Linked DNA regions of Homo sapiens. The protein of the gene in region 1 interacts with the protein of each later gene in a pairwise test. Each region holds a gene or a part of one and is shown on either strand. Other genes may lie near its edges. The genes, in order: SLC37A3 and ZNF177.

What was found.
Region 2: the proteins of SLC37A3 (region 1) and ZNF177 interact in a two-hybrid assay, tested with the Homo sapiens proteins (one large-scale study listed by BioGRID and IntAct).

Annotation. Positions count from the first base shown.
Region 1 is NC_000007.14:140,339,293-140,343,117, forward strand, and holds part of SLC37A3 (sugar phosphate exchanger 3), read right to left. Parts: intron 1-3,825. UniProt on the Homo sapiens protein: Unlike the other SLC37 members, lacks glucose-6-phosphate antiporter activity.
Region 2 is NC_000019.10:9,369,268-9,373,092, reverse strand, and holds part of ZNF177 (zinc finger protein 177), read right to left. Parts: intron 1,484-3,825; exon of another isoform or gene 1,341-1,483; intron 1-1,340. UniProt on the Homo sapiens protein: May be involved in transcriptional regulation.

The DNA.
Region 1 (3,825 bases):
CTCTGTCACCCAGGCTGGAGTGCAGTGGTGTGATCTTGGCTCACTGCAACCTCCGCCTCCCAGGTTCAAGCGATTATCCTGCCTCAGCCTCCTGAGTAGCTGGGATTACAGGCACCTGCCACCACATCCAGCTAATTTTCGTATTTTTAGTAGAGACAGGGTTTCACCATGTTGGCCAGGCTGGTCTCGAACTCCTGACCTCAAGTGATCTGCCCACCTCGGTCTCCCAAAGTGCTGGGATAACAGGCATGAGCCACCGCGCCCGGCCCCCAGTTTTCAATCTTTCGGGAAATACCTAGGAGTGCTGGGTCATATGGTAATTCTATTTAAATTTTTTGGAAGAAGCACCAAAGTATTTTTCACAGAAGCTGCATCATTTTGCATTCCCACCAGCAATGCAGGGCTCCAATTTCTGCACATCCTTGCCAGCACCAGTCACCTTTCCTGTTTGTTTTTTTTTTTGAGATGGAGTCTCACTCTGTCACCCAGGCTGGAGTGCAGTGGCACAATCTCAGCTCACTGCAAGCTCCACCTCCCGGGTTCACGCCATTCTCCTGCCTCAGCCTCCCAAGTAGCTGGGACCACAGGCACCCGCCACAACGCCCAGCCAATTTTTCTTGTATTTTTAGTAGAGACGGGGTTTCACCGTGTTAGCCAGGAGGGTCTCCATCTCCTGACCTCGTGATCCGCCCGCCTCGGCCTCCCAGAGTGCTGGGATTACAGGCTTAAGCCACCGCGCCCGGCCCTTTCCTGTTTTTTAATTACAGCCATCGTAGTAAGCATGAAGTCACAGCTCACTGTGTTTTTGATTTGCATTTTCCCAATGACTAAGGATGCTGAGACTCTTCATGTGCTTATTGGTCATTTGTACATATTTGTCATGAAGATTTGTCCCTGTTTTCTTCTATGAGTTTCATAATTTTAAGTTCTTCAAGTTAGGCCTTTAATCCATTTTGAGGTAATTTTTGCATATGAGGTAAGGTTAGGGTCCAACCTCATTCTTTTTTTTTTTTTTCTTTCCTCTCCCACTCCTCAGCTCCAACTTCATTCTTTTCACGTGGATATCCAGTTTTCCCAATACTATTTATTGAGAGACCATCCTTTCCCCATTGAATGGTCCTGGCACCCTTGTCAAAAATCAATTTGGCCGCAGACACAAAAGGGTAGCATTCTTCAATCACATTATTACTGAAATGTACAAGTGAAAAAAATTAATGCAGAACGACTATGTGATTTATATTAGATCACATCATGTGTAGCAAAAAAGCAGAGGTCTCATCATCCACTACAGGAAGCATGGGGGGCTCCAAACTGACTGCAACTTTGTCTTTTTTTTTTTTTTTAGACAGGGTCTTGTCCAGGCAAGTGGCTCATGCCTGTAATCCTAGCACTTTGGGAGGCTGAGGCAGGAGGATCACTTGAGCCCAGGAGTTTGAGACCAGTCTGGGCAATGTGGTGAAACCCTGTCTCTACAAAAAAAATACAAAAATTAGCTGGGCATGGTGGTGGGTACCTGCAGTCCAAGCTACTTGGGAGGCTGCAGTGGGAAAATTGCTTGAGTCCCAGAAGGCAGAGGTTGCAGTGAGCCAAGATCCTGCCACTGCACTCCAGCCTGGGCATAAGAGCCAGATGCTGTCTCAAAAAAAAAAAATAGAGAGAGAGAGCCAGGGTCTGGCTCTGTCACCCAGGCTGGACTGGAGTGGTGTGATCATGGCTCACTGCAGCCTTGACTTCCCAGGCTCAAGCGATCCTCCTGTCTCAGCCTCCTAAGTAGTTGGGACAGGCACATACCACCATGCTCAGCTAACTTTTTATTTTTTGTAGAGATGAGGGTCTCACTATGTTGCTTGGGCTGGTCTTGAACTCTTGGCCTCAAGTAATTCTCCTGCCTTGGCCTCCCGAAGTGCTGGGATTACTGGCATGAGCCACCACACCTAGCCTCATGTACAAGTTTTAATGTGGACATTTGTTCTCATTTCTCTTGGGCAGATACTGCAATTTAATCTTACTGAACCCCTAGTATGTGTCAACAAAAGCACTAAGCATTGGGAATACAAAGACGAAGGAAACAAGCAGAGCACCTGTCACGGTGCATCACCTTTACACCGTGACAGGTGCCTACTACAGAACCGCATCAACTGCTATGGCAACCTGAAGAAGAAACAATTCTTTACTTGGGAAGTCAGGGAAAGACGGGGTAACAAAGTTATTCAGGGTAAATTAGTACACTGGCTAAGGACAGAGCTGATAGAGGTTAACGCTAAGTCACAGAGTTTGGGATTTCACCCCTTAGGCAATGGGAAATCATTCAAAACTCAACATGGAAGAGGAATGAGTAAAGCTAACAGTGATTTACTCCAGACGTGCTTCCCCAACCATGAAGGTCAGTCTAGGACCCAAGTTCACAGTGAGGGATCTGGATACTGGCAGGTGAGGCAATCTGAATAAAAGCAAATTCTCTGAAATACTCATTATAATGCACCCATTTAGTTAGTGAAGAAAACATTCGTAAGGAAGGATAACTTAAAATAATATAATGTCAGAAAAGGATGCCCAATGCAGCCACTCTCTACCCCATAGGTGAAGACGTCTGAACTGATGGCTGGGAGCATTTTTCGATTCCCGCTCCAGGGCATGATCAGGTAAGCGTATTTTTCAAGGCTTTGCTAAGGTTTTTGTTTCTTTGGGGTTTTTTGCCCTTTAGTCTTATAATCAAATATGCCAAGCATATCAGTCATTCATTCCACAAGTAATGTCTACTGTGTGCCAGGCACTGTTCTAGGTACTAAGGTGACAGAAGAACATACAACAAAATGCTGCGCTCAGGAAGCTTATGTTACAGTGGGAGAGACAGACATTAACAAGTGCATATAGACTATTAAAATACGGCTAGGTAGTCAAAGTATTAACATGGCTTACTTTACCTCAATACTTATCTCTCATTAACCACTAGCAATCAGACATCAGCAATTCACCCCCATCAAGCAAGTAACAATAATCTTCAAGGTTATTAATGACCTCCTAGATGTCAAAACTAAGAGCCTAAAAGACAAATCCTTCAGTTCTCTTTCTCCTGACCTCTCTACATCCATGACCTTACTAACGCCTTCTCAAACGCAGTTCCCTTGACTACAGGTTACTCTGCTGCCTTCCTCTTTCTTTGACCACTGGGCATTCCCTGAGACTCGGCCAACATTCTCTTTCCCTATTAAATGTTTCATTCACTTCCACAGGTTCAACTATTTTTATCCATACAGATGACTCTCAGATCCATCTTTCTACAAAATTAGTACTCTACAATCTGTAGTGGTATATCCTAGAAGAGGCATGACTCATGACTCTGCCAGAAAAGAAATATCTGTCCCAGAGAAAGTTGAATTTATGCAAAAAAAAAAAAGGTCAATGTAAATAATTCTAAGTATAGTAGGCCAATCTTAGTGTAGGGATCTCAAACATCTGAGTGTGGAAGAATCACCAAGAAGCCTTGTTGAAAATACAGATCTGTAGGTTCGAACTCAGCAAGTCTGTAGTATGCTTGGTGTTCTGTACTTTAATGAGTGTCCCAGATGATTCTGATACCAGACACTTATGGGCCACTCTTTGAGATACAGTCAGAGATTTTTGGATACACAGGAAGCAGAGCGAGTGATTCAGAAGCAGCTGCAGAGTCCATGGCCATGTCTGGCGGGGCCCAGGAAGGAACGTGTATGCAGTAGAGTGTCTGGGAGAGGGAGACGGGAGACAGCAATGGTGGGGTCCACATGCCAGGTGGGGATAACAAGAAGCACCCCCCACCACGGAATACCAAGTTCAGCCTGGAAAGAA
Region 2 (3,825 bases), on another chromosome or scaffold:
GACCTGATGTATGGCTTGGTGACTATAGTTAATGATGTACTGTATATTTGAAATTTTCCAAGAGAGTGCATCTTACAAAAGTAAGTGAGGGGATGGATATGTTAATTAGCTTGACTGTGATGATCATTTCAGAATGGACAGGTAGATCAAAACATTATGTTGTACACCTTAAACATATATAATTTTTATTATTTGTCAATTATACCTCAAGAAAGCTGGAAAACCATGCTTCAGAAAAACAAAACTGGCAGGGTGTGGTGGCTCACGCCTGTCATCTCAGCACTTTGGGAGGCCAAGGTGGGTGGATTGCTTGAGGTCAGGAGGTTCAAGACCAGCCTGAACAACATGGTGAAACCCTTTCTCTATTAAAAATACAAAAATTAGCCAGGTGTGGTGGCAGGTGCCTGTAATCCCAGCTACTCGGGAGGGGAGGCAGGAGAATTGCTTGAACCTGGGAGGCAGAAGTTGCAGTGAGCTGAGGTCATGCCACTGCACCTCAGCCTGGGAGACAGAGCAAGACTCCATCTCAAAAAAAAAAAAAAAAAAAAAAAAGGAAAAGAAAGCTCAATGATGAAAGGAAGCAAGGGAGAGAACAGATGTAATAAGAATGGCAAAATGGTGACAATCATTGAAGCTGGGTGGTAGGTACATAGTGGCTTTATAGCACTCTATTCCTAGGTATGACTGAAAATCCACAGTGAACAGTTTTTTAAAAAGAAAGTAAAATTTCCATATGAAAGCGTGAAGCAAGGAACTGTACCCATCAGGTATAATAAAAAGCAAATCTCTCTTGAGGATCTGTATACACAAGTGCTCTCTTTTAGATTTCAGTCCAAATTCATTTCTGTAGTTCAAACAACCTCAAGGGAATAATTTCACTTAAAGAGGGTCCTAAGTGGCATTGTCCCCAAGCAACTAGTGCAAGCAAATCGACCTATCTCTGGAAAATCAACTTTAAGTCAGGTCTTGAGAAAAAATCTTATATACAAAGTTCTAAGTAAATTGAGGAAGGCACAGTTTAAGAAATTGTGAAACACAAATACACAATGTACCATGTGTAAGACATAGCTAACACACAGGTGTCAGGTGGTAAAAAGCATAACACTTTGGATATTACCCTTTTAGATATATTTTAAAATATATAAAAGCTTAATAAAAATTTGAATGGATATAGATTAAGATACTATAAAATGGTTAGTTTAAAAAACAATTTTTAGAAATGAAAAATAAACTCACTGAAATGAGAAATTCAGTGCCAGTATTAACTACCAGATCAGAACTTTGATCGCACTATTAGATGAAAACCTAGCAATTTTCTTGAATTAGTGAAAGACACTAACCTTTGGGTACTAGAAGTATCATAAGCCCCCAAGCTGAATACATAAAAAGAAATCCACATCTAATTTCATTATAGATTTTTCTTCCTTGGTATTTGATTTTTTCCCATAATTTCCAAAGCAGCCAGGGGAAAAACACAGGTCACCTATAAAAGGAAAAACAGACTGATAGCTGACATCTCAACAGCAACAATGGACGTCAGAAGAAAGCAGGACAATGTCTTCAGTATGCTGAGAAAAAAATAACTTATCAACCTAAAACGCTAGACAAACTATCTAACTACTCTTTATAAGAAATACAAAGATAACCAGGTTAAGCAATGAAAACAAACCAGTCAGCAAAATCCATATATGATGTGGGACATTTTAAGAACAAATAACTTTATTTCTTCAATAAATCAGTGGATTAAAAAAATGAAAAGGGAGGAGGAAGAGAACAGACACAATAGAAACTTAAGGGGTCTAAAATAAAAAAAAAATGTTGGGACCCTGTTAAGATTCTCATTTGAACAAACCAAATGTAAAAAGATATTCTGTAGCCAATCAGGGAACGTCAGACTTTGTTAGGTGGGATAATGGAGTAGTGGTGATGAACCAACTAGAGATGCACAGTTAGTAATATACTGATGAAATGACAGGATGTCTGGAATTTGCTTTAAAAACAAATCTGGGGGGAAAACCCAGCATTATTCAATATTTATTTGCAGTATCTAATACAGTAACCACTAATCATGTACGGATAGCTACTGAATACTTGAAATGAGCATTTAAACTTCAATAGCCACATGAGGCTAGTGGCTACTGTATTGGACAGCTCAGCGCTAGATGATGCAAGATGTGCAAAATATTGGTAACTGTCAAAGCTGGGTGTTAAGGACATGAGAATTCATTATACAGTCAGCCCTCTGTATCTGTTGGCTACTCGACCACAGATCAAAAATATGTGGAAAAAAGATGAATGCTTGTGTCTGTACTGAACATGTAGACCTTCCCCCTTGTCATTATTCCTTAAACAATACAGCATAACTATTTATGGCCCGGCACAGTGGCTCACACCAGTAATCCCAGCACTTTGGAAAGCTGGGGCAGGAGGATGCCTTGAAGCCAGGAGTTTGAGACTAGCCTGGGCAATAAAGCAGCACCCTGTCTCTACAAAAATATGTATCTATTTTAAATTATCCAGGCGTGGTGGCGCATGCCTGTGGTCCCAGCTACTAGGGAGGCTGAGGTGGGAGGATTACTTGAGTCCAGGAGTTTCAGGCTGCAGTGAGCTATGATCACACCACTGTACTCCAGCCTGAGCAACAGAATGAGACCCCATCTCTTAAAAAAAAAACAAAAAAAAAACAAACCAACCACTTACATAACACTTATTGTACTAGGTACTGTAAGTAATCTAGTGATGACTTAAAGTAAATGGGAGGGAAAAAATAGCATCTATGGGAGGATGTGTGTAGGTTCTATGCAAATACAATGCTATTTTATATAAGGAATTTGTGACTGTGGAATTTGGAAGCCATGTGGGGGTCCTGGAACCAGTCCCCCATGGATATGAGAGACAACTGTACTATTCTACTTTTGTGGAGAATTAAAAATTTTCATGATTAAAAGCTTAAGAAAAATAAATGGAGAGTCAAATAAAGGCATTTTAAAATAAAGACCTGAGACAACTTACCCATCCAAAAAGACCATCACAGAAGTAACTTAAAAGTACTTCAGGAGATAGGAACTGGAAGACCCAAAATGTTAAGTAGAATGAACAAAGGTAAAATGGATAAAATTAAGCAAACCTTTATTATATAAAATGGTAATAATACCAAATTCGTGACATGGAAAAATAAGCTCAATCCTAATACTAAATAATATATAAATTGGGAAGGAGGTGATTGAGTAGTATGTTCCTTGTATTCTTCCACTGGGGACTCACAATATTGATTAGGTTTAGACTGTAAGTATGCATGATAAAATAGCTAGGGTAACAATTCAAAGGATGGACATAGTGAGTTTAACTCACAGTCTAGAAGAGAAAATGGAATTAGGTTAAAAAAAAATCTCAATTCCAAAGGTAAGAAAAATAAGGGAAATGAAACAAAAAAAATAGGTCAAATGAAAAGCACAATGTAAAATGTAAGATGGTAAAAAATGTCTGACTGTATCAATAACAGTAAGTGTACAGATGGGCTAAATTCTGCAGTTTAAAAACAGACTGTCCTGGTAGATTAAGATAAACTAGCTCTATGTTATTTCATTAGATGCACTAAAATCCACAACAACACATAAAAATTGAGTCTCAAAAATAAGAAAGATATACCAGGTGAATATTAACCAAAATAAAGTTTGTTTGCTAAATTAATTTCATAGATTTTGAGACAAAAGGCACTATTAGAGGTAATGACATGAGGATGTAAAGTACCAATTAGGAAGATATAAAATTCTAGTCTCATAAAACTTATAAAGCAGAAGCTAGCACAATTAAAGGATAAATAAC